Linked DNA regions of Homo sapiens. The main gene of each other region encodes a partner of the protein of the gene in region 2 in a complex. Each region holds a gene or a part of one and is shown on either strand. Other genes may lie near its edges. The genes, in order: SPTSSA and SPTLC2.

Region 1 (6,259 bases), about 43 Mb from region 2:
CATTTTGTAAGGCTATAGCTGCCATAGGTAGTAATTACTCTGATGGACCTAGGCAGTCAATTGAAAAGCTTCCAGAAATGATTCACCATTCTAGATGCCATTATAATAAAAGATTTATGATTCATGGGAGGAGGTCAAAATATTAACAGTAACAGGAGTTGCAAAGTTGATTCCAACTTTTATGGATGACTTGGAGGGGTTCAAAATTTCAGTGGAGGAAGTTAACTGTAGATATGCTAAAAATAGCAAGAGAACTACATATGGAGCCTGATGATGTGAGTGAATTACTGCAATCTCACGGTAAAACTTGAACAGACAAGGTTTTGCCTTTTATGGATGAGCAAAGAAAGTGGTTTCTTGAGATGGCATATACACCTGGTGAAGGTGCTATGAACATTGTTGAAATTACAATGAAGGACTTAGGATATTTTATAAACTTAGTTGATAAAGCAGCAGCAGGGTTTGAAAGGATTGCTTCCAATTTTGGAGGAAGTTCCATTGTGGGTAAAAGGCTATCAAATAGCTTACATGCTACAGAGAAATCTTTCATGAATGAAGAGTTGATCAATGCAGCAAACTTTATTGTTGTCTTATTTTTAAAAATTGCCATAGCCACCCCAACCTTCCGCAACCATGACCCAGATCAGTCAGCAGCCATCAACATCAAGGCAAGACCCTCCACCAACAAAAAATTATGACTTGTTGAAGGCTCAAATAATCATTAGCTTTTTTCAGCAATAAATAATTCTTTAATTAAGATAGGTATATTGGGTGTTTTTTTTTTTTAGCCATAATGCTACTGCACACTTAATAGACTACAGGATGGTGTAAATGTAACTTTTATATGCAGGGGAAAACCAAAAAACTTCATGTGACTCACTTTATTGAGATATTCACTTTATTGCAGTGGTCTGAAACTGAACCCACAATAACTACAAGGTATGCTTGTAAATACCTTATTTTTAACAAAAAGTGAAAATGATTTCCCTGTTATTTACTAACAAATAGACCAGACATTTGCATCAGACAGTGAGCATAAACTTCTCTGATCACCTCTCAAGAGACATCTCCCATTTCTCTTTTGACTCTCCTCAAGATTTCCTGTAAGACCAAACTTTATCTTCCATATGTCTCACAGGTCAGTGTTCATAATAACCATCAGTTATACAACAGCAATTTAATGAATCTCAGAGTGAAGACAAATTGCCGGTTTCTGAGTAGAGGGCCAGGATAGGTCACCTGGATACTCATTGAAACTAATGATTCTCAACTTCTCCTGCCTTCAACTCACCAGAGGAATATTAGACATCCACTTGTTAGTGGTTCTCTATGGGGGATAGTAGAGGAAAGCCAAATTTGGGCATTAATAGAACAAATCTTATGTTAAATCCTCGTATTATTTTTCTTGAGATAATATGACTACAGCTCAGATATAACCATATCCAATTTTTAACTACTTCAAACCAAGTAATTCCATATTATTCTCACTACTCCTATCTAATTGTGGTATCAATTGGCTCTAAAAATATTAAACACATATATATTACTTGAGACCTCTAGACTATAAAATACTTCAAAAGTCTAGTCCTTAAAACGTAGGGCAAAAAATACCTCAATTTTGGCCGGGCGCGGTGGCTCACGCCTGTAAACCCAGCACTTTGGGAGGCCGAGGCAGGTGGATCAGGAGGTCAGGAGTTTGAGACCATCCTGGCCAACACAGTGAAACCCCGTCTCTACTACAGATACAAAAAATTAGCCAGGCATGGTGGCAGGTGCCTGTAATCCCAGCTATTCAGGAGGCTGAGGCAGGAGAATCACTTGATCCCAGGAGATGGAGGTTGCAGTGAACCGAGATCATGCTGTTGCACTCCATCCTGGGCGACAGGGCAAGACTCCGTCTCAAAAAAAAAAAAACAAAAAAACAACCCAGCAACACACATAATTGCCTAATTCTTTTCAATTAGCAATATTTTTATGTTGCAAAACATATAGGATAAGACATACTTACTGCTTATCTGGTCCTCCACAGAAAATAATTCAGCAATATAAATACTAGATCAATATTTAACCATCAAGGAAAAGATATACTGCTACATCAGCTGATTTTTTTTCTCTTTGAATTTAATGTATTTACATCAAAAAATTAGGTAGTCATTTTACATTTAAGGAATAAAAACCTTAAAAAAAACAATACAAAGAGTGAAAGGATTTTAACCAAGTTTACATTTCTTTTTGCTATAATTTTTAACAACAATTCGTCTCATCATAACTTAATGCAATGTGCAAATGCAGCACCCATTACAATCATTAAACTAAATTTAAGGAAGTACATTGTTAATAGTGACCCTCGGAGGAAATGGATTTCTCTTCTATTAAAAACTCTATGGTATATAAGCATTACATAATAATGCTACTTAACCACCTTTTGTCTCAAGAATTATCACCAAAGTTTTCTGGAAATAAGTCCACATAAGAATTAAATATTTAAAAGGTGAAATGTTCCTTATTTTAACTTTAGCAAGATCTTTTCTTTTTCATTAAGAAACACTTTAATAATTTTAAAGCAAAAGCTGTTAGAGTCTAGATAGCTAAAACTGTACTCCTGAGTTCAAGCTTACAGATAAATCTTTTGTTAAGTAGTTCTCAATAAAATATCTTCCCTCCCCATACCCCTACCCGAAATCTTATATTGTTCTTTACAAAACTTTGGTCAAGAGTAGAAATATATCCAGGCAGATGTATATGCCATACAATAGCAAGAACAGTAAAGCCCAACTAATGATTTTGAGTTTTAAAAATAGAAGGCAATTAAAATGTACTCAAAGTTACATTAAGAAAAGCTTTCACGGGGGTAATATTGAAACAGTCACAAAGGTTAAGAAAATACTGATATCAAAGTACAAATGACTACAATGTTAAAATAGACAAAAACTGCTATACAAGAGCCTCTTTGAAAATTAAAAATAAAGAACACAACACATGAGTCAGGATGATTTTCCTGTTCTACTCATGAATTTTAGTCTTTATAAGGTTGGTTATGTTGACATCTAGAAGAGTTTCTTATCACATCTGATGGTCTCATTCCAACTTCGTAGGGTGGGTCTTCCCCAAGGAACCTCTGATCCTGGTCGCATCTTGGTCATTGTACGATTTCAAAGTAGTGCAATATCGCCATGATGTGCTGGGGCATGAAGACGTATCCTGTGTATAGTGCCATCCCCACAATGGAAACCAGCATGGAATCTGAGTTGTAGTTAAGGAAACTTATTATTATTAATTTATTCAAAACTAAATCTCCACATGTCTTCAACAACTCTTTTATGCTGAAGTACCCATTCACTTAGTGCTTTCTCATTTATATCAAGCACTGATAAAAAAAACAACAAGAATGATAATACTAGCCACTAACAACCATGCCTGGCACCACTCTAAGCTGGTTTTGTTTTATTTTGTTTTTAGCTCATTCTATCTTTACTATCACCATATAAAGTAAGTACTGTTATTCTCCCTGTGTAGTTGAAAATATCAGACTGCTTCAAATGTTTTTGTTTGTTTGTTTCTCTTTTTTTTTTTTTTTTTTTTTTGAGACAGAGTTTTGCTCTTGTTACCCAAGGCTGGAGTGTAATGGCACGATCTCGGCTCACTGCAACCTCTGCCTTCTGGGTTCAAGTGATTCTCCTGTCTTAGCCTCCTGAGTAGCTGGGATTACAGGTGCCCGCCATGACACCCAGCTAATTTTTGTATTTTTAGTAGAGACAGGGTTTCACCATGTTGGCCAGGCTGGTCTCGAACTCCTGACCTCAGGAGATCCACCCATCTCAGCCTCCCAAAGTGCTGGGATTACAGGCGTGAGCCACTGCGCCCGGCAGGACTGCTTAAAATGAAGCATAGAATGTGATACTGTTCTACCTAAGAAATAAATATACAGGAATAAAATTCTATTTAATTACTATAAAAGATCTACCAACTTAACTAATAAGAATGTATGATCAAAGAATTTTAGAATTAGACTAGAATGTGGCTAAAAGTATTTTTAGAGTCAGACAAAGCTAAAATCAATCATACACTAGCTTAGGGATGACAGCAACTGCTACTGCTATTATCACTATTAAACATTATTATCACTATTGCTACTATTTGCAACAACTTCAAATAAAGGTAATCTTGATAACCTAAACAATAACCTTTCTGTACCATGTTCCTTTCTTTTTATTACAAAAGGAACTGAAACTGTATATATGGAAGTCAACAAGAGGCCTCTCTCTGGGGCCACACAAAATACTGCTAGCAAAAATTATGTCAAATCTAAGGGCTTTTGGCTTTGCACAGTTACATAGGATGCTAAGAGGAATAACTGTTTTTGAACTGGAGTCATGCTTTATTAATTCATTCATATTCTCATTCTTCTCTCTCTCTCCTCTTTCACTTGCCTTTCCCCTTTCTCAACTCTACATACCTTTCAGCTATACATACTATTATTTTTAAAATAACTTACATTCTTTTATGAGAAGATAGGGTTTAAATAAACAATGTGCTTACTATCAACTAATATTTGTATAACAGGTTAGTTGACAAATCTCTTCCACAATTACATTATCTTACTTAACCCTTATAGCTTTCCTATGAAATGTTTATTATGTTCATCACTAATCAGAAGCTGAGAAAACTGAGTAGCTTGTTCAGGGCCATACAGGAAGCTGTCTTTAGAGCCAGAGGTCAAACCAAGACTGCCTGACTCAAGCCATAAACTCATTCTCTTCATCCAGCAAACAAGAGCAGAAAGTCTTTCACAATCTTTTTTTTACAATTTACTTTTTAACCGCCCTTAATCCAGTTATTCCTTAAACTGCCGCCTTCTATTTACTAATTTCTTTAAAAAAAAAAAAAGAGAGAAAGAAAAATATATACATTTGCTGCTTCTATATCATTGGCATATATTTGTTCATCACCAACACACCATCTGATTCTTACTCCTCCAGACTGTAGGCATTGTTCTAAGATCACTGGTGGTCTCCACCAAATCCAAAGGCTGTTTGAATTGACACTGTTTTAGTCCTTCTTCTTCAAAACCCTTTCCATTTATGCCTGTAGTGCCAGCTACTCTGGAGGCTGATGTGAGCCGGAAGGGCACCACTGCACTCCAGCCTGAGCAACAGAGCCAGACCCTGTCTCAAAAAACAAACAGAAAACAAAACAAAACAATCCTTTCCACTCTTTAAAACTCTACTCTGGGCTCAGGTATTTTCTAAGGCCCTCTTTTAATCTCTCTTACCATTTCCCTGTTTTTCACTGGCTCTTTCCTTTATGATGGATGATAGATAAGAGTGAACTTTGTGCTTTCCTTGCAAACATCCACTCTCCTCCTAGTATAGCAGCCATGCCCTTTTGGTTAGACTAACCCATCTTCATGGATAACCCCTGACTGGTCTTAACCAATTAGAGGGATCTCTTTTGCTTGGTAACAATGCCCTACATCAAAACTGATTAATCAGCTCAAAGCTTAGGACTTCAGCCAGGAATTCAGGAACATAGATGCTCTCTCCTACAATATGCAGCTTGCTGATGGAATCTTGCAATCACTGGAGTCACTTTACCTCCATGAGGAAAGCAAGATTCAGAACAAAGCTGACTCAAGAAGGTGGCAGGACAAAAATAATCACAGAAAAATGGAGTCAGAATCCTCATCAAAAAACCCTGAATCCCACCCTACCACTGGATTTTTACATACTAAACTAATAAATCCCCTTTACTTTTTTTGAGTCAAGGTCTCACTCTGTTGTCCAGGCTAGACTGCAGTTACACAATCATAGTTCACCACAGCCTCGACCTCCCAGGCTCAGGCAATCCTCCCACCACAGCCTTCCAAGTAGCTGGGACAACAAACACGCACTACCACGCCCAGCTGATTTCTTTATTATTTTTGTAGAGATGGGGTCTCCCTATGTTGCTCAGGCTGGTCTTGAACTCCTGGGGACAAGCAATCCTCCCACCTCAGCCCCCCAAAGTGCTGAGATTACAGGTGTGAGCCACCACGCCGAGCTGGCCAATCCCCTTTACTCTTAAAGTAGCTTGCTCAATTTTGTTACTTGCGGCTGAAAACGTTCCAGATGATAAAATGGAATTCCCATCGTTTTGTCTTGGGCCCCATATTCCCTCATAACTTAAACAACTACAGGTTGAGTATCCCTCATCCTAAATGCTTGAGTTGAGAAGTATTTCAAATTTCAGATTTTTTTTTTAAATTTAGAATATTTGCATT
Region 2 (3,447 bases):
GGGGGATGAGTGGCTTCCATGGAGAGATTTCCTGATTTCTCAGGGAGGAAAAAAGTGATGACATTTACCACTACTTTTATGTTTTTCCCCTTTTTCCAAATTGATAAGGATTTCTGGTTCCTAGTGATCCGGGATTGGGCAACAGTGCAGAACTGCCAGTCATGCCGTAGGCCGTGAAGAAAGAATGTGAGTAACTGTTGTTTTGCAAGGATTTGTAGGGTTATGGGCAGTTGTTGTTTGAAGCATTGCTATGACCTAATTCCCAAGGTATCTTTCCTCTCTTGGTGTTCTAGGTAAGCCAATGAGCTTTAATCTCTACTTGCTATAACCGTGTGCTTAGAAAAAGAGGTGAGAGTAGTGGTTTTCCTTCAAACTGTCCACATTCATGAAGATTATGAATTGTTAGGACAGCCAGGGCAAGATAGACCCTGTCTCTACAAAAATTTTTTTCTAAATTAACCGGGCATGGTGGTGCCTGCCTGTAGTCCCACCTGTGTGGGAGAATCACTTGAGCCTGGGAGGTCAAGGCTGCAGTGAGCCATGATTGCACCCCTGCACTCCAGCCTGGGTGACAGAGTGAGACCCTGGCTCAATAAGAGGGGGAAAAAAAATTGTTAGGAGCTGGGTGCGGATGCAGCCTGCAATCCCAGCTACTTGAGAGGCTGAGGCCGGAGGATTGCTTAAACCCAAGAATTTGAGCGTAGCCTGGGCAACACAGCAAGACCCCATCTAAGAAAAAAATGTTTTTTAAATCAGCTTAGCCCAAAGGGGTTGTGAATGGGGAGGTATAAAAAGCAAAGATTATTTTTTGGCTACTAAGCCAAGAACTTACAGGGATTTTTTTTTTCAGTCCCAGAACCTACAGATACCCTGCTACTTGCTTCACGTGGATGCTCAGTGCCCAGCAGCCATCTTAATACATTAAACCAGTTTAAAAAATACCTTCCATGTGGAGAAAAACATGTCTTTTTCTCGCCTCAACTTTATCCACATGAAATATGTGCCCATGGCTGGGCGCAGTGGCTCACCTGTAATCCCAACACTTTGGGAGGCTGAAGCAGGCAGATTGCTTGAGGCCAGGAGTTCGAGAACAGTCTGGCCAACATGGCGAAACCTCATCTCTACTAAAATTACAAAAATTAGCCGGGCATGGTGGCACATGCCTGTAATCCCAGCTACGTCAGGAGGCTGAGGCACAGGAATTGCTTGAACCCAAGAGGCAGAGGATGCAATGAGCCAAGATCACACCACTGCACTCCAGCCTTGGCGACAGAGGGAGACTCTGTCTCAAAAAAAAAAAAAAAAGGTGTGCCCAGGCCCCTAGCCATTGCCATGTGCCCAGCCAGAGAGCCAAATTAGAGGGCTGGCTTCCCTATCACACAGAATAAATGCTAGTGCTAGCCAATGATCCCTTTGCTTTTAATGTATAGAAAATACTGTTGTTCCTTTTGTCATTTCCAGTGACATCTGTTTTCTAAGCAGCTCTTTTCTAGGGAGGAAACCAAAGGGGCTAGGTTAAGACCCTAATAGAAATGTTTTTTCTAATCTCTGGTGAGTCTGGAAGTGTCACATTCACAGTCCACCCTTGGGAGTGGCTTGGTGGAGCTGGGGACAAGGTTTTGTTTACTACATAGTGCACATGATAAATGGCCTTAAACTGTGATTCTTTCTGGTAGGATAAGTTATAATAAACTGACCCTAAAGAATGCAATGGCTTTTAAACTGCAGTTACTGTGTTCTTAATGAAGCAATACCCAAAGCTCTGTTCTTTTGGAGCACTTGAGGGGAGCTTGAATGAAAGGTGCAGATAAGAGCAGTACCTTGATCTTATGCTTTCTGAGTGTCCTGCCTTGTTGCCATCTGCATGGATGAGTGAATGCTTCTATGCACGAGGAGACTCAAGCCAACTCAGAGTCTGCTTTTTCCAACGCTCTTCCCAGGTTTCTTTTGCAAAGCTTGGTCATTTGGCCCAGGTCTTCCTGGAAAGTGGAGTACATGTCACTGACTAGGGTGGCGTGGTGTCTTTACCCTTAACATTAAGTCTTGTTACCTCAGTGATGTGAAGCCAATGGTTGGAATTATAAAAAGCATCCTTGCTGGTTCTTCACAGGACACTGGAACCCACCCTGTCAATTCAGCTAGCATGTCCACACAGTCTTGATGATCCCTCTCTGTAACAGGCAGCTAACATTAAGAGAAGGGGGAAAGAGAAGAAGAGAGCAATAGCTTATGGGAGAGCTGAGATCTTACTTCGTTGACCCATATTTTTCCCCTGACCAAGTTACCTGTAAACTGGAATTTGCAAGGGGATGCTGTGATGATAACCCCTTTCTATTGCTGTAATGTTCATATAACCTGGGAAACTGAGAGAAGGGGATGTGTAAATAAAAGCTTAAACATTTTAGTAATGTGTTAAAATGTCACTCTCTCTTACCCTGTTTCCCTTTTTTGCCAGATGATGATTTTTTTATTTTTATTTTGTACTTTACTGGATGACTGTGAAGCGATGAGTATTGGGTTGGGGTAGGTGTGTTGATTTTGAGAGTGCATGTTAAGAACTGAAGGGGAACTACTTGAGATGACTTAAGAAGCATCCCATGCAAATATCTTGTTTTGCCCTAATAAAATATTCAGAAAGATATATCTGCCTTTATTCATTCAACCAATACATATTGAGTGCTATCTCTCTGATGGGCAGCACACTGAGCTTTGTGGTTCCTACTTGCTAGTAAACAGATAAGCACATGAACATACATGTCATTTTACAAACTGTTAAGTGCTATGGAGGAAAAGTAAAGAGCTTGGTAAAAGTAACCAGGCCGGGCGCGGTGGCTCACGCCTATAATCCTAGCACTTCAGGTGGATCACTTGAGGTCAGGAGTTTGAAACCAGCCTGGCCAACATGGCGAAATCCCGTCTCTACTAAAAATACAAAAATTAACCAGGCATGGTGGCACGTGCCTATAATTCCAGCTATTTGGGAGGCTGAGGCACGAGAATCGCTTGAACCTGGAGGCAGAGGTTATAGTGAGCTAAGATCACACCACTGCACTCCAGCCTGGGCAATAGAGCAAGACTGTCTCAAAAAAAAAAAAAAAAGACAGTAACCATGATCTGGTTTAGACAGGGGTGAGAGAGAAAACTGAGGACGTGGAGGGTCTGAAATAAAGTACAGTTGGAGCTTGATTAAAAACTGTGTGGGGAGGTGAGGTAGTGGGGAGGTGGTAGAGGCAGACTCACTGGGCTTTGTAGATCTTGGTGAGGTCTTTCTCTTATGCAGGGGGTGGGGGTCAGACTAGTGAAAGGGCTGGGTTTTTAAAAAATTTTTTAAATTATTACCTAAAGTGGAGACAGAGTTTCACTGTGTTGCCCAGTCTCGAATTCCTGGCCTCAAGCAATCCTCCCGTCTCAGCCTCCTGACATACTGGGATGACAGGCATGAGCTGC

What was found.
Region 1: the proteins of SPTLC2 (region 2) and SPTSSA are in contact, whole or in part, in a cryo-EM structure (PDB 7K0K), measured with the Homo sapiens proteins. Residues at the interface, in NP_004854.1 of Homo sapiens: Leu73, Gly77, Val80, Leu81, Phe84, Leu87, Arg88, Leu91, Leu126, Arg129, Ile130, Tyr156, Met475, Pro476, Ala477, Lys478, Gly480, Ala481, Arg484, Glu485, Asp533, Leu534, Leu535, Gln536; in NP_612145.2 of Homo sapiens: Trp15, Tyr18, Gln19, Leu21, Leu22, Val23, Thr24, Ala25, Tyr27, Met28, Leu29, Glu30, Pro31, Trp32, Glu33, Val36, Phe37.

Annotation. Positions count from the first base shown.
Region 1 is NC_000014.9:34,432,062-34,438,320, forward strand, and holds the end of SPTSSA (serine palmitoyltransferase small subunit A), read right to left. Parts: intron 3,244-6,259; coding exon 3,140-3,243; 3' UTR 727-3,139; downstream 1-726. UniProt on the Homo sapiens protein: Component of the serine palmitoyltransferase multisubunit enzyme (SPT) that catalyzes the initial and rate-limiting step in sphingolipid biosynthesis by condensing L-serine and activated acyl-CoA (most commonly palmitoyl-CoA) to form long-chain bases.
Region 2 is NC_000014.9:77,505,191-77,508,637, reverse strand, and holds the end of SPTLC2 (serine palmitoyltransferase 2), read left to right. Parts: 3' UTR 1-2,641; downstream 2,642-3,447. UniProt on the Homo sapiens protein: Component of the serine palmitoyltransferase multisubunit enzyme (SPT) that catalyzes the initial and rate-limiting step in sphingolipid biosynthesis by condensing L-serine and activated acyl-CoA (most commonly palmitoyl-CoA) to form long-chain bases.